2 separate regions of the Homo sapiens genome follow, and region 2 is linked to region 1. The links come from fine-mapping of genetic effects on gene expression. A gene starts in region 1. The other region holds a variant in brackets. All regions are shown on one strand. Distances are between the middles of the regions.

Region 1 (15,575 bases):
AGAAGCATGTTTTGTATCATGGGCTTAAAGCTGAAACAAACAAAAAAAGGGAATTCACAATGTGCTTCTTAATCTTTCATTTGGTTTTCATTTCTTAAACAGCTTATCTTTATGTTTTGCTTGTGTGGCTTTGATTGTTGTCTCCTAGGGAGGGAACTTATCTGTATCTCATGCAGTGCTGAGTGCTCAAGAAATGATAAATAATAATAATGCTTAAAAGAACAGGCTGGACCAACACAGCAAGAAAGAAACATTGTGTAAATATAAATGAGAGTTTAAAAGCCTGAGTAATTTTGTTTTTTGGCTAAGAGTTTTAGGATCATGATTGCTTTAAAATTACTCTTGCCCTTTGTTTCTTTGATGGTGTCATTGAAAACTGTTTTGATTTGCTATTTTAAAATCTAACTCTTCAAATTTTTACTAATCTAGTAATTCTAGTAGCTTATTACTCAAAGTATAAGATTTCTAGCAGAATTTTTCTCATGTCAGTATTATTTTTGGCACACACAGCATTTATTTATTTGGAGTCATTGGAAAGATTTGACACTGAGATTGAAACCAACTGTAGGTCTATGTCTGCTGCTTTACAATAAATGAGGAAAAGAAATTCTACTATAATTTTTAAAATGTCATTTTTAAGAAAAAACTTATGGAAAACTTCAAACTTACTAAAAAATAGAGTACAATATAATGAACCTCCAGCTTCAACATTTGCCAATCTCCTCCACTTTTTTCCTCACATATTATAGGGCAAATCCCAGATTTAATGCTACTTCACAAACACAAATGTATTTCAGAATATGTATCTAACTGGTGAAGATATTTTTACATGGCCACAAGGTTATTATCATACTTTAAAAAACCTAAATTTAATATATAAGTCCAAGTTCACATTACATTTTCCTTGACTGCATCAAAAATGCCTTTTATAGTTAGTTTATTCAAATAAGGATCTGAACAAGGTCCACAAATTGTATTTGGTCTCTCTCTCTCTGTCTCTCTCCTTTTTTAAATAGCAGTCCTCCCTTTTCTCTTTTTCCTTTCTCTTTATAAATTTCATTTTAAAAGTTAACATATAGCATATTTTCCCTTTTTTGGTATTCATACGTAACAGTAAAATTGCCTTTTTTGGTTCTGAGAGTTTTAGCATTTATAGATTGATGTGATCACCACCACAGTTAGGATATACAGAACAGTCTTATCACCCCCAAAAAACTCCCTCAACAGTCTTTTCACCTCAAAAAATTCTGCCCTTTATAGTCACACCCTCTCCACACCTATTACTATAGTATGTTATCTTTCGAGAATAATTTCTTTCTCTTAGCAAAATATATTTATGATCCATCCATGTTGCATGAGTCAATAGCTTCTTCCTTTTTTGGTGCTAACTGTAGGCATGTACCACAGTTTATTCATTCACCTGTTTACAGACACGTTGGTTAAGATTAAATCTTAATATCTTGTTAAGGTTAAATATCCTGGAGAGGACTTGTTGTGTCACATGGTAAGTGTGTGTTTAAACTTATAAGAAACTGCCAAACTGTTTTTCCAAAGTGCCTGTACCACTTTGCTGACCAACCAGCAATGTAAGAGTTCCAGTTACTTTGAATCTTCTCCAGCACTTTGTTTTTTTAATTTTTGCCATTCTAATAGGTATGTAGTAGCATGTCACCATGGTTTTAATTTGAATTTCCTTTATGTCTAATCATGCAGAACAATATATCATGTGCTTACTTGCCTTTCACATATTACCTTTCTTTTGCCCATTTTTTAATTGTGTTGTTTGTTTTCTTTATGGTGAGTTTTGAAAATTCTTTATATATTCTGGATACTGTCAAGTACAAGGCAAAGCTAGGCTAACAGATTCAGCTGCAAAAAAACAAGACCTTTTTAGACTCAGTTTATTGCTTACATAGAGAGTAAAAAGAAGAGTAGCTAAAGGATCCAGCTCTTCGTTACCTTTGTATAGGGAGACAGTGAAACAAAAGAAGCCACATGACCACAACAAGAATGATAGGATTCCCTGTTGCTGAGGAGCCCATTTCCATGATACTGCTAAGCAGTTTTTTTTAATAGCTGCATTTGTGCCTTAAGGGTAGCAAGACAGGAAGCCTTGTACCTCATCAGAAACCATGAGATAATGACAAAGGGTCTTTGGCAGCCTCCTTGGTATACAGGGAAGCCAGTAAGCAATGGCATGTAGCACTACCTCACAAGCCCCCATGCTTTCCTATTCCAGGAGGATCACAAAGCATTCTGCCAAGATTCAGCTGCCATTCAAGCCTTGCTTATGTGGCCTATGCAAGGTTGTCAGCCGCTGCAGAGCTGTTCCGCTATAGATACAAGTCCATTGTTAGATATGTGGTTTGCAAATATTTTCTCACTGTAGCTAGTTCATTCTTTTAACAGTTGATTTCTCAGAACAAAAGTTTTTTAATTTTGACGAATTTCAGTTTACCACTTTTTTATTTTGTGGGTCATGCATTTGGTGTCATGTCTAAGAACTCTTTACCCAAACCCAAATCATAAGGTTTTCTATGTTTTCTTCTAAGAAGGTTATATTTTATATTGTTCATTTAGATCTATATTCCCTTTAGTAATTTTTTTATAAAGCATGAAGTTTCATGTTAAGGCTTACTTTTTTTGCATCTAAATATCTAACTGTTCCAACACTACTTATTGAAAAGAGTATCTTTTCAGACTGGATAAAGAAAATGTGGTACATATACACCATGGAATACTATGCAGCCATATAAAAGATGAGATGTCCATTGCATGTCCATTGGAGGGACATGGATGGAGCTGGAGGCCATTATCCTTAGCTAACTCAGGAACAGAAAACCAAATACCGCATGTTCTCACTTATAAGTGGGAGCTAAATGATGAGAAAACATGAATACATAGAGGGGAACAACACACACTGGGGCCTTTTGGAGGATGGAGGGTGGGAGGAGGGAGAGGATCAGGAAAAACAACTAATGGATACTAGGCTTAATACCTGGCTGATGAAACAATCTGGACACAAACCCCCATGACACAAGTTTACCTATGTAACATACCTGCATTTGTACCCCTGAACTTAAAATGTTTAAAAAGAAGAAGAAATAAAACTTTTTCAGGGCAAATTTGTAAAAATAGCAAAAGAAATAAAGGGCATCCACATTGGAAAGGAAGAAGTCCACCAAAAAAACTACTAAAACTGATAAATTCAGTAAGTTGCAGGATACAAAATCAACATACAAAAATCAGTAGCATTTCTATATGCCAACAGCATACAATCTAGAGAAGAAATCAAGAAAGTAAAACCATTTACAATAGCTACAAGTAAAATAAAAGATTAACTTATCCACCTGATGAAGTTGTAGAATTGTTGAGAGGGACTCAGGAAAGTCACCTTAAAGGCTCTGTTTGCTTTCCCGCTCTTCTTTCTTCCTGCTGCCTGGGAAATGGATAGTTATGATTGGGGTTCCACCAGCCATCTGGGACCATGAGATTGCTTTGAAAATGGAAGCCAGGGCTGAGAATGGAGAAGATAAAATAATAGAAAGGAGCCTGGGTCTCTGGTGACTTTGTGGAGCTGTTATAACAGTTCTGGAATAATTAATCTGTAGACTAATTTTACTGCATTTTATTGATTCTTAAGATGCACTATTTATGTATCATTAAAAAAACACTGCCAATCAAACTCATACAATACTTTCTTATTGCATGAACTGTGAAGTTATTCTGATCTCTGAAATGTTAAAGTGTGGAAAAAAGGTGTCTTAGAATCAATAAAATATGTTAAAGGATTAACCCTTCTGTTTTAAAGCTATCATTATTTTGAGTTTTCTCATACATTATACACAACCTATTTTCCTAGTTTTTAATTTTAGACTGAGAACTTCTTGAGGTTTCTTAGTCCACTTTCATTAGGGAGTTCCCATTTTAAGTATATTTTGATGAGTTTTGACAAATGCATGCACCCATTTGACTTCCACCATGGTCAAGATATAGAACTTTTTTGTCACCCTTTAATCCCATCCCAGTCAATTCTCCCCACCCCAACCCTAAGAAACCACTGATCTGTTTTCTGTCATTATTGGTTAGATTTGTCTTTCTCTAGAGCTTTATATAAATGGAATCATCCAATATTTATGATTCTGTGTCTGGCTTCTTTCACTCAGCATACTGTTTGAGACTCATCCTTGTTGTTTTATATATCAGTAGTTTCTTCTTTTTATTTCTGAGTGGTATTCTATTATACCACTATAATAGAATACAAAGAAAAATGTACCATAATTTCTTTACCCTTTCATTTTTTTTTTTTTTTTTGAGATGGAGTTTTGCTCTTGCTGCCCAGGCTGGAGTGCAATGGCATGATCTCCACTCACTGCAACCTCTGCCCCCTGGGTTCAAGTGATTATCGTGCCTCAGCCTCCCAAGTAGCTGGGATTACAGGCATGTGCCATCATGCCCGGGTAATTCTGTATTTTTAGTAGAGATGGGGTTTCACCATGTTGGTCAGGCTGATCTGGAAATCCTGACTTCAGGTGATCTGCCCGCCTCGGCCTCCCAAAGTGTTGGGATTACAGGCGTGAGCCACCGTGCCCAGCTCTTTATCCTTTCAAAGGTGATGGATCTTAGGGCTGTTTCCAGTTTGAGGCTGTTGTGAATAAAAGTGCCATGGATATTCATATACACAGGGAATCATTTTGTTCCCCTGTAGTCATGGGCCAGTTCTGTTCTCTGTTATACTTAGCCCTGGTTCGAAGATTCTTATAGGTCTTGCTACCTACCTCTACCTTTTGTCTGCTTGTTTATAGATACTGGTTAGTTAAAGCTAAATCTGTCCTGAGTAGGGATTATCATGTTTAGCCGTTCTGCTTCTATTTCCCTCTCTAAACCTGATCATAAAAGAAGAATTAAATATACTGGAATATAACAGTGGGGGACAGTTTCTCAGGGCATAGAAATGTGGAGAAATAAATAGGACAACCTCGAATAGAGTAGGGTAGGGTAGGGTAGGGTAGGGTGGGGTGGGGTGGGGTGGGGTGGCGTGGCATGGCGTGGCGTGGCATGGCGTGGAATGGAATGGAATAGAATAGAATAGAATAGAATAGAATAGAATAGAATAGAATAGAATAGAATAGGATAGGATAGAATAGAATAGAATAGGATAGAATAGAATAGAATAGAATAGGCTTTCTATTCTGTGAGAGGTAGTGAGGAAAGAACTCTGGCTTTGGACCCAGTCAGGTCTGTCTTCGAAATGGGCCATTTATTAGCATAAGAATCTAGGTACATTAATCTCACTGAGCTTCATATTTTTTTCACCTGGAAAATGAATATAACATTCACTTTCTGGGATGTGAAAATTAATTTATCCAGACATTAAATATGCATTGAGAATCCACATGTGTCAGGCCCTGTCCTAGGCTCTAGGGATACAGCAATGAGCGAACCAGCAAAAGTGCCTGACTTCATGGAGCTTATGGTCTAATTTAGGGCGATAGACTACAAAAGTAAAAAAATCAAAATCTATGTTACATTACATGCTGATAAGTGCAATGGAGAAAAACAAAGTAACAAAGGGGGATAGAAAAGCCCCTTCTTGGCTGTGAGTTGCTTGAAATTAAAGATTGATCTTTCTCCTTTATCTCTAGCATTTATCACAGTGTCAGCTATACTAAGTGTTGCATGAATGTTTCTTGAGTGAAAGGAATGACTGAATAAAAACCAGTGTTGAAGAGAGAAGTTTATCTCATGAAATCATTGTAATACTGCTTACCTGGACATTTTTTAAAGCTTCCAGATAGGTAATTATTATGTCAGCAAGAATGGTGCCCTTTACTTCTCCTTGTTCTTGCTGGATTTTAAAGTGTTCTATTCTTACCACTGTTATATTTTTTCTTGGAAATCAGAATGCTTTTAATGTACCTTCTAAATGATATGTCCTTGATTTTAAAAAAACATTAACTACATGCACTTTTCAGGCTGTTGCTGAGTAATATAGAAAATAATTTGACAAATGATTCAGTATATCAATTTTTGTAATAAGGAGAACTGATATTCTATAGTGTCTGGAAAACTCGCATGTATATGCTACAAATAATAAAATCATGCTTTAGAACAATATTCAGTGTCAAGGGATAGTGTGCTTAACATGTAGCTAAATGGGATAAAAAACCAGTATGCACAGTGTCATACATATAAAATACAACAGACTTTGCATATGATTGTGGTTTTCTTCTTTGTGCTTTCCTATATATTTTATATCAAACCTGTATTATTTTGTTAATCATCTCCCCACATTCCTATTAAACCGAATATAAAATAGGGAAAATGTACATGTATGATAGCTTGATAGATTGAAATATTTATTTAAGGTCTGTAACATTTAGCAGGCGGCAGGGCTGACTAGAAGATAAAAGAATTAATCTGGAGCGGCCGGGTGTTGTGGCTCACGCCTGTAATCCCAGCATTTTGGGAGGCCGAGGCGGGCAGATCACCAGGTCAGGAGATCTAGACCATCCTGGCTAACATAGTGAAACTCCGTCTCTACTAAAAATACAAAAAAAAAAAAAAAAAATTAGCCGGTCTTGGTGGCGGGCGCCTGTAGTCCCAGCTACTCGGGAGGCTGAGGCAGGAGAATGGCATGAACCCGGGAGGCGGAGCTTGCAGTGAGGCGAGATCGCACCACTGCACTCCAGCCTGGGAGACAGTGTGAGACTCCGTCTCAAAAAAAAAAAAAAAATTAATCTAGAGTATTGGAAACAGCCTACCTCCCACGGCTATGTGATGAACAAATTACATAATATATGTAGAAATGCTGTATGAATCACTATTTGTGTAGTTACAAAGCTTAATCCCTTTGTCATCCTCTATAAACTCCATGAGGACAGGGAATTTGTTTACTAATATATCTTCATTAGCCATCACAAAACATGTGTTCAATAAACATTTGGCAAATATATAAATATTTTGTTTGGTAGCAAAAAATTATTTCACAGGAGAAAACTACCATTAAATGATTTGATGTCTCTACAGTTCCTTCAGGTTAAAATCTGAATTCCTGTCATTCAAGATTTACTCAATCTAGTTGACAATGTACTTTTCTGCCCCCCAAATATTCACACAACATCTCCTCAAACCACCCAAGGACACTATCTCCTGAACTATTGATGCCTTCCTCCTCTCTCTTAAGTCTTTTAAACGTCCAACTCAAATCCAGAATCTTCCTTTGATCTATCTTAACACATGCTTATTAGATGTCTCAAACTGCTAATTAAAAAAACAAAACTTTAAAAAATACTTTATTCATTTTTGCATTTCTGTCCCCAGGGACTAGGACAGTCCTTTGAATATGGTAAATATCCAATAAATACTTACTGATTTAATTATTTTTCACAACACATCATTAGCTTACAATTTTTATTACAATGAAAGTAAATCAATTTCCTAAAATTCTTCCCTTGCCCCATATCGAGGTGCAATTATTCAGTAATTAAAAAAATATAGCTCCAATAAATGCAGCTGGTCATAAAAATTATTTCAGTAATATCACAATCTACTAGAAGAACCAGGAACGAGTAGCTAATTTTCCAATTCCAGTTATCTATGTTACGGATTACGCTTTGTTATGACTGCAATTCCTTGGATTTCTCCCCTCTTCCGCCCCCGGGATCTTATCCAATTGATAAGGTTAAAATAATGGCTATTATCCTTCTGGCTTAAAAAGCCTAGTGCTCTTCGTTCCTTAAATCATTTCATGTGTAAATTCGGTGCTTAGGAAAGACTGTGATACAACATCTAAGAAGCTACATTTAGAGTTCAGTTTTAAAAAAATCGAGTTCTTGGCTGGGGAAGTGCCCAGGTGCAGGTTTGTTTTGTGGTGAGCGGTTCGCGGGGCCAGGTGCAAGACGCTCAGAAGTGTTTTTGGGTGTCGCTGGCCAACTATCTCCACATAAACTCCGTTTGTTTATTTGACAGCGTTACTGCAGAGGGGAGTTAGGTCCAGCGCCACTCAAACCAGATTTGTAGAGACTTAAAACTGCTTTGTCTGTTTTTTTTTTTTTAATCATAAAACCACCCAGTTGGATCCAAGGCAAATTTGTCACCTACTTCAGGGCCCCTCTGAGGGTCAGAAAGAATTATGAGCGCATTTGAACGCACGGCCCAAATAAAAGCAAACGCACGGAGACTTGCGGACTTGACAATTGTGAGAAATCTCTTAAAACTCGCCTGTGGAGCGGCGGGCGAAAGCCGCGGACGCCAGCAGTAGTCGAGGCCCCGGCGCGGACGGCAGGGAATGAAGTCGCCTGACTTTTCCTCAGGGTTTTGTTTTTCTGTCACGGAGGTACAAAAATAGCAAAGCAGGGGTGGGAAGTCTCCTGGCCGTGTTTTTTTTTTTCCCCCTCGCCAGGGATGGCACTGGGAAAGAGAAGGGAGGAAGCAGGAGCTGCACGGAACCCGTCCCGAGGGAGCCGAGGTAAACCCTGCACCAGAGTTAAGGGAGTCGTGCTCCTGCCACTTCCAGAACACTCCGAGCCGCTTCTGCAGGCCCCGCCCCCTGCCGGGGTTTCCCCGCCACCCGCTTCATTTGCATGGCGCTGCCCCTCCCCCGTTGCCATTGGCTAGCGCCGGGCCCCGCCCACTGCTCCCAGACCGCGGCAGGGTTCCGTCCCCCCGAGCCGCACGGAGCTGCGGGCAGCGGGCGGACTGTTAAACCGCGGCGGCGGCGGCGGCGGCGGCGGCGGCGGCGGCGGCGGCGGCGGCCGGGGCGGGAGCGGGGCGCGCTCTGGAGACGAGTCAGCGGCGCCCCGGGTGGGGGAGGCGGGCGGGCAGCTAGAGATCACCTCAGCAGCCCCCACCACGGCCGGACCGAAGGTGCGGCGGCGGAGGGGAGCCAGGGCGCCCCAGCAGGCGAGTGGCCGGCGTCTCAGCGGCGGGATGACGGGGGTGGGTCTTCCCTCTTGGGGACGGCGGCAGCGCGGGGAGGGGAGAAGACTGCCGGGTGGACTTGCGGGTCAGGCGACCGACCGGCAGCCCCTTCGCCCCCCGAATCCTCTGGGCTGCTGGACTCTGGTCTCGGCACGGGATCGCGCTCTAGGGCGGGGGTCTGACCGCAGCCAAATTTAAACGGCTAAACCTAACAGCCTTGGCAGCTGGGGAGGGAAGGGGTCTAGGGAGGGGTGGGGGCGGACCTGGACGCCGGTCACGTGGGGGGTGGGGCTTGGCAGACCTCCCTTTTGTTTTGGCTGGCGCGTGCGCAGAAGGCAGAACACGTGGTTTCCTGGACCCGCCTCTTGCCTCATCGGCTGAGCCTCACCCATTGGGGGTGTGGTGACGGCTCTTTTGAGGCGGCTCTGAGGCGGAGCCCACTGGATTTGATGAGACCCCTATTTTATTTATTTCACACTTTCTTTCAGGAAAACGTAGATTTGGGCTTTAGAGTTAGATGGGATAGAGCAGAATCTAGGGGATTTTTGAGGGACGGTGCTTCCAAGTTTGTGTCACCGGTGTGCTGAGGAAGGGACCGGTCTTGCTGGAAAAAGTCAGATTGCGTGGTGTTTGGTAGCAAGAAATACCAGGCGGTATCCTGGCCGTTTCAGAAACCACAGGAAAGGAAAGAGGCTGGCTTTGCAGTCGGGAGGGCAGGCACTGGATGGACGTTCTTGTAATGTTTTCTTACTCTGGGAGAGTCCGTTTTTGTTTGTTTTTTTGTTTGAACTGTGGTAAGCACATTCCGTTTTTGATTCCCCAAACTTCAGGACATTCATGTTCTGGCGAGGTTTAGGAGACAAACTTCCTTCGTCTTTAGCCAGTTTGCTTAACTTCATCTGAGTTTGGGTCAGTAATAATTTTAAATATTGCTGGATGGGGCAGGTTTGTTAGCCACAAAACCTAAGTGAAGTGAGCACTGCAGACAAAACTGGCAATTTCTGACTAGGAAAAAATGACTCTAAAAATAATTCAGTATTGAGAAAGAGGCTTAACAGTGAGTGGTCTCTGCCTTTCCCGTTCTTAATAACTAGCCATTTCTTTGGGTTAGTCACCTCTCTGATGTCAAACTTGTTTCGTTTTTGTAAAGTTTCATAATATGGTCTCTGTCTTAAGAGATTGTAAGAAAGAAGAAATGCCTTGTATTAGGAAAAGTGATTCCTAATCTCTACCAATTGCCAAGTAGTGTTATTTTTATAACAAAAGTGAATTTTTTAAAAGCCCACATGTTGGGGAAATATAAACAATGAATTAATCATGAAATAGAATATATTTGAGTATCTTTAAAATCTGTTGTAACCATTATCTTTGGTTCTCCCTCAGTTTCCACCTACTTAGATCAGTGTCAGCGTCTGCAACCATTTCCTCATGGTTTTAATCTACATAGATTATTCTCTCCCGCAAACTGTCTGGAGTAATTTTTTATGTGAAACTTCTTAATCCAGGCCAATTCTCTCACATTGACTTTTAACATTTACATTTTAATTTTGTTTCATGATGCGCCTTTGCAAATAACAATCGATTATTTTGTTAAATCTTATTATTATAAAGTAATTGGAAAATAGATGAGTGCAAATAAGAAAACTATAAATATTTTGTACTTTAAATATTTCTGTCTGCATATATGTGTATTTTTCCTAAAACTGAGACCACATGGTATTTTCATTTAACTCAGACATTCGCATATCATTATTCTTTGAAAAATATTTTTAATAGCTGCTTAACATTTCGCCATGTAACTATCATATTTTAAATTTTTTCTGTTGGCACGTATGTGGGATGTTTCTGGTTTTGCTAGTGTATATTTCACTACAGACAATATCCTTTTACATAAACCTTTGAAATTTCCCCCCCTTAGATTTGTAGAAGAGGAATTACTGGGCCAAAGAGTCTGTTTTTGTTGTTTGTTTGTGTGTGTGTTTTTTAAGGCTCTTATGTCATCACCAAATTACAGAATGTTGTATTGATTTACAGTGATCTAGTGGTATGTGTGTGCCTCCCATTATGTCTTTGTTTATCACCTAGTATTAGGCTTTAAAACTAAAAACCTTGCTTTAATTTGCATTTTAAATTTTTTCACTCTAATCTGTGATGTATCTTTTATTTTTTAACTTATTGTAAAGTGCTTGAGAGAAAGAAATATATTTCATGTTTGACATGCTGCAGATCACTTAGTGGGTGCTCAATAAATACTTGCCAGTGGGCTAATATTTATCTTTTTTATCTATGGAAGATCAGGAAATTGTCTTTTGCTTTTTGTTTTACTCAGTTTACTAGTACATTGTTAGTAATATACTATTATTGTTGGATTCATAACTTTTACTACTTTTTCATTCAGGTGAGGCCTCAGTGATCTGATCACAGTTGTCTACCAGAAGGTCAATTAACTTCTCATAGCCCAACTGCTGCATTATCCAAGAACTTCATCCAATTTTGATGCCATTTATCATGATACCTTAGATTATTTCATTTCCTTTACTCATTCATCTGTCTTCTATGAAATTAACGTAAAGGTTTCACTGATCAATGTAGTTTCACTTGTAGCTTTTACTGTGTTTGACAAAAAATGATGCCTGCTATCTGAAGTTCCTTTATTATTGAGATGGTTCTTGGTAGCTCACTTCTTATTGCCTATAGGATCCTTTATGCCCTTTAATCTACCACATAAATCTTATAAATAATATGTAATCCTTGTTTTCATGATGTTTTTCATGTATTCAGATAATCTCTCCATACCCTTATTTTGTCTATATAGTATTAGATGGTAGTTGAAGGAGGCAGAGAGCTGCTTTCTTCAGGTATAGAATTATGCTTAGGGTTGTTTACTGATTGGGTTCATCAAGATACAAACAGAAAGGAATGGGGCTGCTTGCAGCAGGAGTGACATTTATTGGACAATTAGCAACTAATTTACTAATTTTAAAGCATATCTCTCATATCGCTATCCTTAAAGCTGATACTGCATTATAGTACTTTAATGGAATAATTTACATCATGATGACCCTGAATCATAAATACAATCTTACATTACTTTTAGTATGTTCCATTTAGAAAGGCAAGGAAGATATATAATTTCCAAGAGATTTCTACCTTTCTTTTTCTTTTAAATGTTGTTTTATGGGGACTTTTCACTGAATTGTACTCCTTATTCCCTAATCATGTGGGATAAACACCCAGCAAATGTTAATAAAAACGGTACTATTAAACTTGCCAGTAGATAGTCTATAATAAAAATCCAAAGACTATTCATAATGGAAATTTTAAATACTTGATGTTATTTTTAGGTTCTTAGAAACATTTCTGTATGGACGTGAAAATTCATTAATAATATTGAGACTTTGTTAATATTCTAAAAATATTTATGAACTTTTTGTTTATTTTATATAATATTGAGGCTTTGTTTCCAGTCCAAGACAATTCTCAAGTGTGTTGTTTTTATTTAAACAAATTTTTATTCAGCAGTAGGTCATTAATCAGTGTTTATTCATGTGAAGTTAAATTGAAGCTAAAGTATATAGACTGAGCAAATGTGATAGTGTACTTCTACATGTAGATTTTTGGATCCAAATCGATATACACAGAAAAAAATGACTATGAGTCATGCACTTACAAGTGAAAAGTAATAATTCTGCTTGAAGTATGATCTGTTTGATGTGTTATGTAGCCACCCAAGTGGCTTTATCTTTAATTAAATTCCTTTAGTCTTCAAAGAGAATTCCTTTTTAGGCATAGTTTTCAAAGTGGAAGAAGTTCTTGCTTATAAAACATCATTGAATATAAAGTACTGAGCTGACTGAATCCTAGTTATGCCAGTTATTGCAGTGTTTACTGCAGTAAATTGAGAATTCCTGTAAAGTGGCATGAAGAAATCTTGAAAACAACACTGTATTTTGTATTCCTACTTTCCATTAATTCCTGTATTTTTGAGGAATAAAACTGTACCAGTGTGAGCTCATTCTTTTTTTGTTTGTTTAATTGGACTTTTCCCTGCTACAATTCAGTAACTTTGAATCCTCATATATTTTTTATTTATTTATTTTTAAATTTTTGTAGAGACAGTGTCTCTCTGTCACCCAGGCTGAAATGCAGTGGCACGACTGTACTCCTCTAGTCTCCTTATAGTCTAGAGATAATGTTTAAAAACTTCTCATATTTTGCTAAAAGAATTTGTCTTTTTTCTACTCTTTCTTTCTGTAATTGGCCTAGGTTAGCTATATGAAACATTTAGGTCACAAGTGTGGAAATAATTTATTATTTGACCCTACTTCAGGGTTCTCCCCTCTCTCAAAATACTGTTGGTAGTCTTTTCACTTTATTTAAGCATCAAGTATAAATCTGCTGTCTTTCTGATAATGTTTTCCTAGTTTGTTTCTTTGCTCTGCATTTAAGAGAGCTGGGATTATCCAGATTCCAGTTAAAAGAATAAATTTAATGTTCAGGGGCAGATTTGGATAGGATATTTTCCATGGCATATATGGAATATATGTATGCATTCTAGAATATAAATCAGAATCTGGAGCAGTATTTTAGGGGATAGGAATTCAGATTTGGCCTTTAATCTTTAATGCACATTCTCAGGAGGAAGAGTGGTTCTTATATAGATTATCAGTTTCAACTCTGAGCGTTGAGATTAGATTAGCAAATTTTTTATTTTTCTTTAGAAAGTTTGTCAAAAATTTTTTGAAATATGTGACCTATGTATTAATTTGTAAAGGTCTGATTATTAACTGTCTGGACCAACTCAGTAACTATTGACTTGGTAATTATCTCACTGTGTACATGCACCTTTTGAGGATGATGGCTTTTACTGTATTTCATGATGTCCAAGGGATCAGATTGCATTTAATTAATGCTAAATTCATAAATATGTATGGTTTAGAAATCTTAAAAAATATAGATTAAACTCCTAATGGAAAGTCTGGAGACAACAGGGCAAGACCTTTTATTTGTAGTACAGTAGTCCATCTTTATTTTTGGGGTATATGTTTCAGATCCCCAGTGGTACCTGAAATCGCAGACAGTACTTAACCCTATATATACTTTATTTTTTTCTAACCATACATACATATGATCAAGTTGAATTTATGAATTAGGCATAGTAAAAGATTAGCAACAACAGTAGTAGAACAGTTATAACTATACATAAAAGTTATGTGAATGTGCTCTTCTTGCTCGCTCTCAAAATATCTTACCTTACTGTACTCACCTGTTTTTGGACTGCAGTTGACCACAGGTTACTCGAACCATGGAAGTGAAACAGCTGATAAGGGGAGACTACTGTTACACAATTTCAGAACAACTAATAGTAACTCATGCTTTCCTTAACTCACAATGAACGTTCTTTGGATTAAATTGTAGACCCAAAATTAGAATTTATGGTATAGATTTAACTTTACAGTCTACCTATTGTTTTTATCAGATTAACTTAATTTTATTTATAATAATTTCAGAGCAACTAATAGCAACTAATGCCTTAATTCACAGTGATTGTTCTTTGGATTAAATTGTAGTCTAAAAATTAGAATTTATGGTGTAGATTTAACTTTACAATCCCCCCTTGTTTTTATTAGATTAATTTTATTTATAACAAATTTAATATAACCAAAAACAAAAAAATTGATTCTTTCTAGTTTTAAAAAATGTTTATTATTTAAAAACATAAGCTTTGTCTTGTCTTACTGAAATTCTCTCTGGTGTTTTTTAATAAGACTTCTTAAAAAAACCGGAGATACACTGAGTTTGGAATTGCTTACTGGAGGATTATTTACTTGATAGACTATCTGTAACAGTTTTATAACAGACTGGTTTTTGTTTTGTTTTGCCATCCATAACATTTCTGGGCTGCTGATGTGCTAAGGAATTTTTTTTGTTTTTTGTTTTTTGGTTTTTTTTTTAGTAAAATTGGAATGTAAGTTGAAAATTCTGTTGTAAAAACGTAAAAGTATGCCAGTGCTTTGGTGGGCAGATCACGAGGTCAGGAGTTCGAGACCAGCCTGGCCAACATGGTGAAACCCCATCTCTACTAAAGATACAAAAAATTAGCTGGGCATGGTGGCATGCATCTGTAATCCCAGCTACTTGGGAGGCTGGGGCAGGAGAATCGCTTGAACCCAGGAAGCGGAAGTTGCAGTGAGCTGAGATTGTGCCATTGCACTCCAGCCTAGGTGGCGGGGCGAGACTCCATCTCAAAACAAAAAAAAACAAAAAAAAAAAAACAGAAAAAATAAAAGTAAAATTTATACCCAAGAAACATAGTTGGTTTTTGGATTATCTAGAACTGTTACCTATTGACAGAATCAAGATTATGTATCTAGTTGCTTTCTTTGAAAGAGGACTGATATATTTTCATAACTTAGTTTTGCTTCTTAAATTCTGTAAGTTTGATATTTTCATTTCTGTGTGTTGTGACAAAAAGTTTAATTCTTTTTTCCAGTTTTCTTCCTTCTAGGTTCTTCGAAGTTCTGCATCATTAGACTAAATTCTTTTAGAAAAGGGACCTCTTGTTCCTAAGTATCTTGGGTGTATATGAAAGAAATAATCATCAAAGATGATGGTGGTGCCTAGAGTAATATAATAAAGTATTTTAGTAGTTG
Region 2 (15,575 bases), 35 kb after region 1:
CATAAAACCACCAAAGAACATGATACTTTTCCAGGAACTAATCCTAAAGAAATAGAAGATCTATGAATATCTTGGCAGATAATTCAAAATGATTCTTTTAAGGTGGCTCAGTAAACTACCAGAGAACACAGAGGGGCAATTCAACAAAATCAGGAAAACAATACACAAATAAAATGAGGAGTTTAACAGAATGATTGAAATTATTTAAAAAAAGGTAACTAGGCAGAAATTCTGGAGCTGAATATAAACTGAACAAAGTGAAAAATGGCAATAGAGAGCATCAGAGCAGAATTGATCAAACAGAAGAAAGAATCTGTGAACTCAAATACAGGTTATTTGAAAATATCCAGTCAGAGAAGGAAAAATAATGAAAAGGAGTGAAGAAAGCCTGTGTGATTTATGGGATATCCTCAACAGAGCTAATGTTCACATTATAGCAATTAAGGAAGTAGAAGAGAGAAGGGGTAGAAAGTATTTTTAAAGAAATAATGATTGAAAACGTCACAAATCTGGGGAGAGATAGTCACATCGGGGTAAAGGAGAGTCAAAGTTCTCCAGTCATTTTCAAACCAAAGACCACACTACAACATATTATAGTCAAACTGTCAAAAATCACAGAGAGACTATTGAAAACAGCAAGAGAAAATCTTCACATACAAGGGAACCCTCAGGAAGTTATCTGCACATTTCTAAGCAGAAACTTAGTAGGCCAGGAAAGTGTGGGATGATATATTCAAAGTGCTGAAAATAAGAAAGAAACCTGCCAACCAAAAAACCAAACCCAGCAAAACTGTCCTTCAGAAAGGGAGAGAGAAGACTTTTCCAGACATACAAAATCTGAGAAAGTTCATCATCACTAGATCTGCCTTACAAGAAATGGTAAAGGGAATTCTTCAGGCTGAAAAGAAAAAGAATGCTAATTAGGAACATGAAAACATATGAAAGTGTAAAACTCACTGGTAATAGTCAATTCAGAATACTCTAATAATGGTGGTGTATAAATCACTTGTTTTTATTATAATTAAAAGACAAAGCTATTAAAATAATAGCTACAATAATTTGTCATAGGATGTACAATATGAAAAGATGTAAATTGTGATATCAAAAGCATAGAATAGGAGGAATAAAAGTATAGAGAGTTTGTATATGAGATTGAAGTTATTATCAGCTTGAAATAGACTCCTAATAACTATGAATTGTTCTTTCTTAAGCCTAATGGTAACCACAAAGCAAAAACCTATAGTAGATATACAAAAGATGAAGAGAAAGGAATCCAGGCATATAATTACAGAAAATCACCAAATCACAAAGGAAGACAGCAAGAGAGGAAGAAAGGAACAAAGGATCTGCATTAAAAACAAAACGAAAACAGAAAACAGTGAACACAAAGGCAATAATAAACCTTTACCTATCAACAATTGCCTCGGATATAAATGGATTAAATTATCCAATTTAAAAACATATATAGTCAGTGAATGGATTTTTTTTAAGACCCAGCTAGCTGTATGTGCCCTGTGAGAGACTCACTTCCAGTATAAGGACACACACAGACTAAAAGTGAAGGAATAAAATATGGTATTCCATGCAAATGGAAACCAAAAGAGAGCAGGGGTAGCTACATGTATATCAGAAAAAAAATGCACTTTAGGCCAAAACATGTAAAAAAAGACAAAAAGGTAAGTATATAATTGATAAAGAGGCCAGTTTATTAAGAGGATACTACATTATAAACATATGTAACCAATATCAGAGAATCTAAATATATAAAGCAAATATTAATAGATGTGAAGGAAAAAATAGACTGCAATACAATAATAGTAGGGGACTTTAATACCCCACTTTCAATAATGGATAAATCATCCAGACAAAATCAAAAGGAAGCATTGGGCTGGAACTATAGTTTAGGCCAAATGGACCTAACAGAGATATATAGAACATTCCATCCAACATTGTAATACACATTGTTTTCAAGTGTAAGGGAACATTCTTCAGGATTGATCATATGTTAGGCCACATGACAAATCTTAACCAAAATGATTGAAATCATATCAAGTATTTTTTCCAGCCAAAATCATATGAAATTAGAAATCAGTAACAGGAGGAATTTTGGAAAATTCACAAATATGTGGAAATCAAGAAAAGCCAATGGATTAATGACTAAATTTAAAGAGAAATTTTAAAATATCTTGAGAGAAATGAAAATGGAAACACAGTTTACAAAACTATGGGGTGCAGCAAAAGGAGTTCTAATAAGGAAATTTTGTAACAATAAACACCTACATTGAAAAAGTCATCTCAAACAACATTATACTTCAAGGAAGCAGAAAAAGAACAAACTAATCCCAAAATTAGTACAAGAAAGGAAATAATGAAGATCAAAGCAGAAGATATTAGAAAAACAATAGAAAAGATTGATGAAACCAAGAGTTGGTTTTTTTGAAAAGATAAGCAGAATTGACAAACCTTAGCTAGATTAAGAAATGAAAAAAGACCCAAATATATAACATCAGAAATGAAAAAGGAGACATTACAGCTGATACCACAGAAATATAATGGATCATAAGAGACTATTATGCAACATCTCTATGCCAACAAATTGGATAACCTAAAAATGTATAAATTCCTAGACACATAGAATCTAACATGAATCATGAAGAAATAGAAAATTGGAACTAACCAATAGCAAGTAAAGAGATTAAAACAGTAATAAAGTCCCCCATCAAAGGAAAGCCCAGCACCTGATGACTTCACTGTACTCAAACTCTTAAAAAAAAAATTGAAGAGGAGGAGGGAATACTTTCAAACTCATTTTATGAGACCAGCATTACTCTGATACCAAAGCCAGAGAAGGACACTATAAGAAAAAAAAAAAAAAAGATTATAGGCCAATGTCCTTTGTCACTATCCTTGCCAAAATACTAACAAACTGAATTAACTACACATTAAAAGGATCATTCACCACAGTCAAGTGGAATTTATCCCTGGGATGCAAGGATGGTTCCACATATACAAATCAATAAGTAGGATACACCACATTAACAGAATGAAGGACAAAAAACATTCTTAATACATTTGCAGAAGAAGGATTTGACAGAATTCAGACTCTCAACAGATTAGGTATCGAAGGAATGTACCTCTACCAATAAAGGCCATATATGATAAGCTCACAGTTAACATCCAATTTAGTGGCAAAAACTTGATACCTTTTCCTCGACCATTTCATCTGCTTGGGCTATTGTAAGAAAATACCTTAGACTCAGTAACTTATTAACAACAGAAATTATTTTACAGTCTGGAGGCTGGGAAGTCCAAGGCCAAGTTGTCAGCGGATTCAGTGTTAGGTGAGGGCTTGTTCTTTCCTTCATGTTGGCATCTTCTACCTCTGTTCTCACATGGTAGATAGGGAGAACAAGCTTCCTCAGGCCTCTTTTATAAGAGTATTAATCTCATGATAAAGGTGGAGCCTAATCACCTAATCATCTCCAAAGGCTCACCCTCTTAAGGCCATCACATTGGGAATTAGGTTTTAACATATGAATTTTGAGGACACAGTGTTCAGATGATACCACCTACTCTGACCAATCTATTCAACATATACTGGAATTGCTAGCCAGGTTCATTAGGCATAAAAATAAATAAATAAAAGAGAAAAAGGAAAGAAAAGAAAAAAGAAAAAGAGAAAGGGAGAGAAAGAAAAGAAAGAAAACAGAGAGGAGTGGGGAAGGGAAGGGAGGAAGGAAGGAGGGAGTGAGGGGAAGAGAGGAAAGAAAAGAAATTTTAAAAAAGTATCCAAATCAGGGAAAGAAGTTAAATTTTCTTTGCTGATGACATCTTAGAGATAAGAAAAGTGTAAAGACCCCATCAAAACAATGTTAGAAATAAATTAATTAGCGTTTCAGGATATAAAATCAATCTACAAAGATCTGTATTATTTCTATACACTAATATTAAGCTGTCCAAAAGAAAACCATCCTACTTAAAATGCTAACATACTTAGGAATAAATTTAACCATGGTGGTGAAAGATATGTACACCAACAACTAAACATGAATGAAAAAATGGAAAAAGAAACAAATGGAAAAACATCCTGTGTTCACGGATTGGAAGAGTTGTTAAAATGTCCATACAACCCAAAGCAATCTACAAATTCCATATCATTGTTATCAAAATTCCACTGGCATTTTCCATAGAAATGGGAAAAAATTCAAAAATTTATGTAAAACCAAGCAAGACCCCATGAGCCAAAGCAATCTTGAGCAAAAAGAACAAAGCTGGAGGCACCACATTACCTGACTTCAAAATACATTGAGAAAACTATAATAGTCAAAACAGCATGCCACTGGAATTAAAAACACACATATGCCTATGAAACAGAATAGAGAGCCTAGAAATAAATCCATGCATTTATGGCCAATTATTCTTTAATAAAGATGCCACGGGCACACAATGAGGAAGGGATAGTCTTTTCAACAGTGTTGGGAAAATGGGTTATCTACATATCAAAGGATGAAATTGGACCCTTATCTTACTCCTTATTCCCACATCAACTTAAGGTGATTAAAGACTTCAACATAAGACCTGAATAAAACAGAAAAAGCTTCTCGACATTGATGTTGGCAAATATTTTTTGGATATGCACTCCAAAGCACAGGTAACAAAAGCAAAAATAGACAAATGAAATTGCATCAAACTAAAAAGGTTTGACACAGCAAAAGAAACAGCAGAGTGAAGAGACAACCTATGAAATGGGAGAAAATATTTGCAAACTATACGTCTGAAAAGGGAGGATTTCCAAAGTACATATGGAAGTTAAATTACTCAATAGTAAGAAAACAAATAACCTGATTAAAAAATGGGCAAAGTGGCCAAGGAGGTGTAGCCCGGTGGATCGCTTGAGCTCAGGAATTTGAGACCAGCTTGGGTAACATGTCAAAACCTTGTCTTTACAAAAAAATACAAAAGTTAGCCAGGCATGGTGGTGTGCACCTGCAGTTCCAGCCACTCAGGAGACTGAGATGGGAAGATCACTCGAGCCCAGGAGGTTGAGGTTGCAGTGAGCCAAGATTGCGCCTCTGCACTCCAGCCTTGGTGACAGAAAGAGACCCTGTCTCAAAAAAAAAAAAAAAAAGGAAATGGGCAAAGGACCTGAATAGACAATTTCTTTTTCCAAAGAAGATATACAAATGGCCAACACATAGATGAGAAAGTGCTCAACATCACTAATCATCAGGGAAATACCAATTAAAACTATAATGAGATACCGTCTCACACCTGTTAAAATGGCTATTACAAGAAAAAGAATAACAAATGTTGGAGAGGATACAGATAAAAGGAAACTCTTGTACACTGTGGGAATGTAAACAAGCACAGATATTACAGAAAATAGTAAGGAGGTTTCTCTGGAAATTTAAAATAGAATTACCATATGACCCAATAATCCTACTTCTGGGTATATGTCAAAAGGAAATTAAATCAGTATGTTGAGTTGATACCTGCACTCTCATGTTGATACTCATTTACAGTGGCCAAAGTATGCAATCAAACTGACCATTGACAGATGAATGGATAAGGAAAATGTAGTGTGTGTAGGTATGGATGTCAGTTAGGAGGAATAAGTTCTGGAGATGGTCAGCATAGTGACTGTAGTTAATAATAACATACCGTGTTGAGTCCCTGACTTATGATGGCTCAACTTACAATTTTTCAACTTTAAGGTGAGTTTATTGAGACATAATTGAATGCATTTCTTTTTGTTTTGTTTTGTTTTGTTTTGAGATGGAGTCTTGCTTTGTTGCCCAGGCTGGAGTGCAGTGGTGCGATCTTGGCTCCCTGCAACCTCTACCTCCCAGGTTCGAGCAATCCTCCTGCCTCAGCCTCCCCAGTAGCTGGGATTACAGACACCTGCCACCACACCTGGCTATTTTTTGTATTTTTAGTAGAGGCGGGGTTTCGCCATGTTGTCCAGGCTGGTCTTGAACTCCTGACCTTAGGTGATCCATCTGCCTCAGCCTCCCAAAGTGATGGGAATACAGGTGTGAGCCACTGCACCTGGCCAATTCAATGCATTTCGACTTATGATATTTTCAATGTTGTTACCATAAAAAATGTTAAATGTTCCCACCATAGAAAAAGTATATGAGATGATGGATATGTTAATTAGCATGGTTTAATCTTATACAATGTGTACATATAGGACAGCATTGTGTTAATATATAAATATGTACACCATAAATATGTAATATTTTTGTCATTTGAATCTTAATAAAGCTAAAAAAGATTTTTAAAAAGCGTAAGTCCCAATGTTAAGCTTCCTTAGACAAATCTAAACACTGCAAATATTATTTCTAAAAGTTTTTTTTATAGAATTGATATCATTAACTTTTTTTAACACTGCCATCTTTTATTTTAGATTTACAGGGTATGTATGCAGGCTTGTTACATGTGTATATTCCATGATACTGAAGTTTGGGGTCTGATTGATCCCATTGTCCAGGTAGTGAGCATAATATACAATAGTTAGCTTTTCAACCCTTACCCACCCCCTTCCTCTCCCCTCCATTAGTCCCCAGTGTCTATCGTTGCCATCTTTATGTCTATGTTTACCCAATATTTAGCCCCCACTTATAAGTGAGAACATGCAGTATTTGGTTTTCTGTTTCTGTGATTAGCACTGTTTTTAAAAATAAAATAAATTTTCATAGTTGTAAAAAAAAAATCACAGCTCATGAAAATTTGTACTTTCGATGTAACATGCTTCTTGGATTCCAAAATGCACATTTTTATCACATTTTAATGTTTCTAATAGATGTACCTTATATAGATATGTACAATTTTTTTTTTGAGTCAGAGTCTTGCTCTGTTGCCCAGGGTGGAGTGCAGTGGCACAATGATGGCTCATTGCAGCCTCAACCTCCTGGGCTCAAGTGATTTTCTTAACTCAGCCTCCCAAGTATCTGGGACTACAGGTATGCACCACCATGCCTGGCTAATTTTTCTGTTTTTTGTAGAGACAGGTTTTTGCTGTGCTGCTTAGTCTGGTCTCAAACTCCTCAGCTCAAATGATCTGCCTGCCTCGGCCTACCAAAGTGCTGGTATTACAGGCATGAGCCACTGTGCCTGGCCAGATGTATAGAATTAATATTATATTATTTTCCCACCCCAGGGAATTATGTTATGAAATTGATTGTATTTAAATTTTATGGCATCTTTAGCACTGAGGAAATGCAATATTTCAAATTTATGCATGTAAGCATCAGGATCATTTAAAATAATATGTTGCATAATATATTTAAGATTGTCAGAAATATTTTTCATTTAATGTCTAGTAATATTTTAAAAATGTATGTAATTCATTCTGTTACAGCATTTTAAAATGTAAATTTGTGACGTATTTGGCATTTAGGGGAATGATGTCAATATAATGTAGATTTTTACACACTTTGTGTGTGTATCCACAATGTGGGTTGTTTCCAGATTACTTCAAACTTGTTAGCATTTTGAAATGATCAAGGTCAAGCTTTTCTCAACTAAAGAGGAATTCTTAGCAGTAGCTGAAGATCTAAACAAAATGCTAAAAGTCCTATAGAAATATCCTCCTGTAGCTCAGTAAGTTGCTGGTTTATTGGCTATACATTTTTCTGTGTTGACTAAGCTTTAAAGATATTTTGCTTGTGTTAAAAAGAAATTGACTAATGAAAAATGCTGTCTCTAGAAGATATTTTTAATTTTTATTAAACTGGTTTCTATTAGAACTAATGTCTTCAAGGATGCACATCAAAAAAAGAAGAGACCCAGGATATGAAGCTTTAAATGTGGACTGCTTTATTTTAGGTACAAATGCCAGTGGAAACTTTCCATTTTTATAATAATCATTATTGTTTTGTTAGGGCTCAGATTTAAAAGTTCCTTAGGTATTGTGTGGTCTGGCACTATCTTCACAATAAGTCTAACTATTTTTATTTTGCAGAACATGAGGTTATACAGAAGTGCATATATTGTGTTAGAGCAGGAATGCCTGTACTTGATTCTGGCTTAGTGGTAGTCATTTTTTTGATTAATAAAGGTAGTTTTAATTTTTATCCTATTTCTTTTCAGGGCCCATTATAGTGTTTCGCAGGCCCATTACTAACTCATTTGTGTGCATTAGGAAAAGATTTTCCTTCCACTGAGCAGATGTAGGTTTGTAATTGCAGGGTTTGGAGTACAGAACTCTTGCTGGATTTTACTTGCATCTTCATCCAGGCCCGTGTACAGTTCAGTTTGAAAACATTACATGGTTGCCTGGCTTCCTGAACAAAAGTGAGACATGCACACACATACACACAATGCTTATTGAACAGTGAAATTGTTTCTTTAGCAAATAAATGTTTTGATTAGTTTAACATTTATTTACAGTATTTCCCTTTTAAAAATATGTCCTTATTTGTCAATGTTTGATGTTACACAAAGATTTTACAAACATATTTAAGACTATTTTACAGGCTATAACTTTGAAAATTCTTTCCATACAAGAGAAGAGGCGTGGTAGCGATAGAATGCATAAATATTTCCCAATCTCTCCTTTTTTTTCTTTTTTTTCTTTGAGGGGTGGGAGGATAGATAATAAGAGAAGAAGACTAAATTTGCCCATCCCATATATGAATTATTTTTAATTAATACTGAAATTTTCAGTTTAGGCAGTTGACACTAGGTTCTGCCAGAGTTCTAGGCAGAATTGCATAAGATCTCAAGATGTGTTTACTCCATTTATTCTTCCTTTTTGGAACCCTTTTTAAGTTCCAACCTCAGATAGTCCTTGGACATCCTAAACTGCACTTTTTAATGTGGTTTATCTTCATGCCAGAATTTCTAGAGGTCACAACTGTATATTTATTTTTTTGTTTTTGTTTGTTGTTTACTTCATGAATGTGTGCATATATGTGTCTATATTGTGTGTGTACAACTTGATGATAGAGTATGTAAGTTATTAACTTGTATGTCAGTAAGGCTCATCTTAAAGACAATGAACATTTTAAATGAGAACTTGTTAGCCCAAATGATCCTAATAGCATGAAATATTTTCGAGGGAGGA[A/G]TATGTTATTTAAGGTATATGTTAAGCTTTTATAACAAGGAGAAGTCAACATAAATATATAGAATTTATTTTTCTCTCATTTAACGGTCAAGAATTAGATATGCTTTACAGGGTTTAGCAGAGACCTTTTAGCTTTGCTGTTCCTTAGGATGCTGCCCTTGCCTGCATTGTTGAGAGTCACTGGTACTTCATTTCATTTCCATATTCAGTCATTTTTAATGATAAACCCAATCATTTATAATGGCCAGACCTAGAAGTTGTGCACATAATTTTGGCTCACGTTTTATTTTCAAGGACTTTGTTGTATAGTCAGACCTAACTGCAAGTAAGGCTGGGAAATAAGGTCTCTAAGCTGAGCTGCTGAGGGCTCAGCTGAAACCCAAGGAGCTCTATTATCCAAAAAGTATAGGAGGATGGATATTAGGGGAAAACAAGAAGTCTATTCAGTTTGCCTCTTTGGCTACCCAAATGTCCATGTACCTCTTTCTCATTCATAAAACATACCATCTTCTCAAGGATGATAACCCAAAGTCACATTCATTGGGTAAAGTCCTCTATATCGGGTTTCTGTGTGGTTCATCATGATGTGGTGACCAATAAACTAAGAGACAAGTTTCCTAATTTTCTTGACCTCTTGCTTCTTGTATGATGGTATAAAGGACAAGGAAAATTCCCAATGGGAAAAAAAAGAATGGGCCATATATGATAGTTCCTGTTCCTTACAATAATAGACTTCTTGCTCTGGCAGTGGAGTAAGGTCTTGCTAGGACCTTAATTTTGCTTTCTGAGATAAGCTCCCTTGTCATTTGTCCTTCATAGTCCCTGACCTTGCTCTTTGGGAATTACTCTTGGTCTATGATTCTTTGTGACTGTATCTAACATGGGTGTTAGTGTACTCTTATTGGAGACACCACTGCATTCTCACCCTGCTTTCTATTGGTGCAGATTTGGCTCCCAGGGATAGTCTTTGTTAGGCTTATGGTAGTATTTCCTAGTCGAGTTCCCTCCGAAATGTAGGTTTCCATTCTCTTTTTCTTCCTGTCAGTTATATGTGAAAATACCACAGCCAAAGATCTCATTTTGTCATAGTTGTTAAGCCTATGCACTTATTAATTTACTAGTTATTTTCCTCAGACTATCCACCTCTCCCTCAATTTGATAACTGCCTTAGTGTAGTGGCTACTCTACACATGCTCTAACAAAGCTTTAAAGTAAGCTGAAATTTATGAAGTTGAACAGCAAGTAATATAATAACCTGTCAGAACAGAATTCATCACTCTTTAAGGAAGACCACAAAATCCACACATTAACAACATAATCATAGTACCCTTAAAATATGTATTTATATAAAACCTACTAGACATGTGTGTATGTATGTGCACATGTGTGTATTCAACTATTAGGCATGCAAAGAAGCGGAGAAAAATTATTAATGGAAACTGATGTGGAAATGATAATGATCATGAAAGTAGTTGGCAAAGAGCTTAAAATATCTATTGTAAATATGCTCAAGGACTTAAAAGGAAAATGTGAACATAATGAAAGAAATTGAACATATAAAGAACCATTGAACGTTCAGAAGCTAAAAATATCTGAAATGTAAAACGACTTCAGCTAACAAGGGAATAGTCATTCAGAAGAAGTGGTTAATAAATAAAAATCACTGCTAACTTCTCACTAGAAGGTATGTAAGCCAGAAAAATGGAATGATATATTTAAAGTGCTGAAAGGTGGGGAAAAAAAGTCAGTCTAAAATTCTCTGCCCAGTGAAACATTTTAAAAAACAGAGACAAAATGACATTTCCAGATAAGCAAAAATAGAGAGAAGTTGTCAGTATACACGCACTAAAGAAATTTTAAAAGATGATCTTCAGGCTGAAGGAAAATCATACTGGGTAAAAACAGATTTACATAAAGGAAAAAAGAAATGTTAAGAAATGGTAAATATGTGGGTCTGAAATATGTAGAAATTAAATCACACATTTCCAAATAACTCGTGGATGAAGAAGTCACAAGAGAAACTATAAAATGTTTTGAACTGAATAATATTAGAAACATGACATATCAGAATTTGAGGGATGCAGCTACTAAATTACTGAAGCAATGCTGTATGGCTATACATGTTTGTATTAGGAAAGGAGAATAGTGTAGTCTGTGGTCTAAGTCTCCTACTTAAAAAGCAATAAAAATAATACTAAATTAAACCCAAAGCAAATAGAAGGAAAAGGTGATGATAAAGAGTGGATATTCACAGAATATAAAACATGAAAACAATGGAGAGAATTATAAACTTCTAGCAAGATTATTTAGAAGAATACTAATAGCAGGAAGAAGGAAAAATATCACTATAGATGTTCTGGCATTGTGGAATAATTGGGGGATACAAACCATTCTCTGTATTCCCAGGTTCTGTATCTGTGTATCAACTAACTATAAATGGAAATAGCCAAGAAAAATATAAAATAATGCAATAATAAAAAATATGAATTAAAAAGAGTATAATAACTTTGTATTATGTATTATAAGCAATATTTACATTGTATTAGATATTATAAGCAATCTAGAAATTAAAGTATACAATGGAGTGTATGTAGCTTATATGCACATGTACATCATTTTATATAAGGGACTTGACCATTTCCGCAGATTTTGGTATCCTCAGGGGGTCCTGGAACCAATCCTTATACTAAGGGATGACTGTATTATGAACAAGTACATGTCAATAAATTCAACAATTTAAGCTAAATAGGCTAATCGCTTAAAAGACACAAATGACCAAACTGACACAATGAGAAATAGAAAACCTGAAAAACCTTACGTTAAAAAGAAAAATTAATAATTATAAACTTTCCCACATAGAAAACTTGTGGCTCAGATGGCTTCACTGATTAATTTCATTGAAACTCAAGGAATAAACCATTCCAGTCCTACATAAATTCCTTCAGAAAATCAAGGAGGAGAGAAGACTTCTCGTTTTATGAGGGTAGCATTAGCTTGATTCCAAAACCAAATATGACAAGAGAACAGCAGATCCATATCTTCTTTGACTATAGATGCAAAGAAAAATCCTAAATGAAATAACAAATAGGGTCTAGCAAACAGTAAAAATTCATCATGACCAAATGAGTTCATACCAGGAGGTCAAAACAAAGATGTAAGTTTGTGATGTTGACAGTTAGTACCAAGAGAAATTGCATTCAAAACCACTTAAGTTTAAACAGCTTGTACTCATTTCTTTTAGCAAAAGTTAAGTGGTGGCTGCAAGCAAGCAAGGATGGGAATTGAAGTCATAATGCTACCTTTCTGGGGAATGAGTGATCTCTGTCACTGTCCAGGTGGTCTCCACTCACCAATGTCTTTGATCTTTACTAGAGATAGGGAACCCACATTATGGTCAGCATGTGGTGGTCTGTGATCAGTTTTGCACACTCTAGAAAGATTCAGGGAGTCAGTGGCAGACCAGGCTTATATGCTAACTGGGGAGTTGGGACACTCTGAGTATGCTGGTGCATTAGTTATATGCTATTTGGTTACACTGTAAGTTATGTAAACCATTAACATTGATTATATAAGTTGTTTACATAAAATGTTTGACTTTGGGGTATAACATGTTGATCTTGTTTGAGCAAGTTAGCCATATATTTATCTGTAACATCTTAATTATTAACAATCTTATTTTTTTTAGAAAAACATGTTTTCTAGGAAGCAAACATTTTTGTTTACCACTTATAAGCATAGCAAACATGTTTTATTCACTCCTGTTAAAATGTAGGATAAGTTACCCTCTACAGAAAATTTATTTCAGGCCGGGCTTTCTGGCTTATGCCTGTAATCCCAGCACTTTGGGAGGCCGAGGCGGGTAGATCACTTGAGGAAAGGAGTTGAAGCCCAGCTTAGCCAACGTAGTGAAACCCCGTGTCTACTAAAAATACAATTAACTGGGTGTGGTGGTACATGCCTGTAATCCCAGCTACTCAGGAGGCTGAGGGACAAGAATCCGTTGAACCTGGGAGGTGGAGGTTGCAATGAGGAGAGATCGCACCGCTGCACTCCAGCCTGGACGACACAGCAAAACTAAAAAAAAAAAAAAAGAAAATTTATTTCATATATCACAAAGCGTCCGATGCGATTTGGTTTACTTAAATTTAATCTGGTATTGCTATTTTTCTATATTAGTATAATTTAGTCTAGTATATGAACATCATAACAATGATTTTTGTAATCCTAACTTGAGTATCAGAATATCTTTACCAGAAGTACAATAATATGAGTTCTATGGCATTTTTTTCTGTTATATTTCATTATTCACTAATCATCAATATTATAGCCAAACCAAATTGCATATTATAGGGGAATTTTCCAACTGGAGCAAAACTTAAAGAATGTTTAAGATCATCTTTGATTGCCCTAAGCTCACTTCTATGCCATACTTCTGCAAGTCCTATCAACTTTAAAATGAACCTTGAATCCATTCTTTTATCTACATATCTTTGTCTCCCCTCTCCTTCCCAGTCAAAGCCATTTTTATATTCAGTGTTTTAGTCAGAATAGGCTATATTTAGAGTTACAAATTAGCATCCTAATCTCAATGGTTTCACACAGCAGAGGTGTACTGCGGCTTACATAAAGTCCAGTGTGATCTGGGCTATTCTCCTCCTCCATCTTGTAGCTATACTCTCTGCACTACTGGTTTTGAAGATCCTCAGGTGAACTGGAAATGACAATGTCACTTTTGCTTACAGCGCATTTGCTCAGAACTAGTCAAATGGCTCCAACATAAATGCATAAGCCTGGGAAGTGTAGGGCGGTACGTGAAATATTTAGAGATCACAATGATCTGTACTACACCCAGATTATTACAGATAACATCTTAGTTGTTTTCCTGACTTTTTTTTCATTTCCTACTGCAGTGCTTTCTCCACCTAGTAGCCAAAGTTCTTGAAAAAAAAAAAAAAATTGTTACCACCTTGCCAGTAGTTTCCACTTTGTTTTAAAATCCAAACATTTTATCCTCACCTGTGTAAAATGCTACGCGCTAGCATGCTTGCCTTCTCTGATTTTGTGATTGGCATTTAGTGTTGCTAACTGTTAACTATGAATAGTATATTTTGAATAGGTATTTTATTTTGTCCACAGTTAGGAAAATGTGATTTTTAAGTGTCAAATTTATGAAACCACAGTAATGACTATAAACAATAAATAATAATACCAAGAGAAATCCTAAATCATATGGTGTCTTTAATCACATTGTATGCAGTTAGAATCCTTAAAAACAGTGGCCTTTCAGAAACATTGATATAATGTAAAATCCTGTTATAATGAATAAATTCTATATAGCAAAGCCATAATAATTGTGTTCTGTTTATCTGACAGCAAATGATCTCTTAGAATAAATATTTTCTCTGTTTAAAGATTATTTGAAAGATATTCCATTATGGTCCAGTGCATTTTAAAAAATTAATAAACTATTTTTTAGAGCAGTTTTAGGTTCACAGCAAAACTGAATGGAAAGTACAAAGAGTTCCCACATATCCCCTGTTCCTACATGCTACAAATGCATAACCTTTCCCAGTGTTAATATCCCACAACAGAGTGGTGTATTTGTTACAATTGATGAACCTACATTAACACGTCATTGTCACCCAGAGATCATCATTTACATTAGGGTTCACTCTTGGCGTTCTACAGTCAGCGGGTTTTGACAATAAATGAATTTTTAGATAAGTTTTTTATAAAGTTTACATGTTGTCATTAAGTCATTGTTGTCCTACAGTTATATCTTCAGTTTCTGTCAGTTTTTTTTTTTTTTTGCAATCTGCATCTCCTAATTAAATATCACACACATATACCACCCGTAATCCCCAATAATTTTTCTCTAGCTGTAGTGCTCTTGCCAAATGACAAGAGGTACTAGGAGGAGCTAGGAATCAACCCTTATTTTTAAATATGCATGAAAGAAAGGCTTTATGTAAATTCTTTGTGATCTGTAGGTTGTGAATCCTAGGAATCAGGTTTTTAAGGAACAGTTTATCTTAAATATTTTAAGGTCTATATATTTGGTATGCTTATTTGAAATGTAGCAGAGCATTTATATTTTTTATAATTTTTGATAGCTTTTAAAAAATGATTTAAATAATTAGCTAATAACGATGCCTATTTTAACAAATAAAAATTACTTATAGTAAAATCGAATATGCTACAGTTTATTACATGGATTTAGATTTAGCACCATTCAAATGGATTGTCTGGTACTTGACATCTACTTACGTATAAAAGTTTTATGTAACAGTTTTTACATGGTGTTTGCATTGTCATTCATGTTTCCTTTTCTTTGCTGGTTTATCTCTGTTTAAGACCTTCTGCACTGATAAAGAATTGAATAGCAGAGGAATTATCCTACTACAGGGTATGTAATATTTAATGAAAACAGGTATTTGTGGGGTGGAAAGGTAGGAAAATTATATCTTTTTCTTTGATAAGAAGTCAATCTGCCATTCTCTCTTCC

Direction of the effects. Alleles are on the strand shown, and positions count from the first base shown. SD is a standard deviation of normalised expression in the study named.
As copies of A replace G in region 2, the expression in pituitary of the gene that starts at base 8,644 in region 1 goes down (moderate effect, 0.74 SD a copy in GTEx).

What was found. PIP is the estimated chance that this variant, and not a neighbour inherited with it, causes the effect.
Region 2: its variant is the best candidate, but not a certain one, in a credible set for the expression of KANSL1L in pituitary (GTEx, PIP 0.60).

What each region holds. Positions count from the first base shown.
Region 1 is chr2:210,164,478-210,180,052 of GRCh38, reverse strand. It overlaps KANSL1L (KAT8 regulatory NSL complex subunit 1 like), which reads left to right and starts at 8,644. Exons shown (of 15, transcript NM_152519.4): 1 at 8,644-8,904. RefSeq lists enhancers at 1,665-2,164, 7,715-8,348, 8,349-8,984, 9,378-9,557, 8,985-9,619 and 1 more and silencers at 8,428-8,757, 8,878-9,187.
Region 2 is chr2:210,129,296-210,144,870 of GRCh38, reverse strand. The region is part of intron 2 of KANSL1L (KAT8 regulatory NSL complex subunit 1 like); the gene reads left to right. LOC107985977 (a long non-coding RNA gene) reads left to right here and starts at 4,703. Exons shown (of 2, transcript XR_001739866.3): 1 at 4,703-6,493; 2 at 7,750-14,415. The variant A/G (reference allele first, on the strand shown) is at 9,071.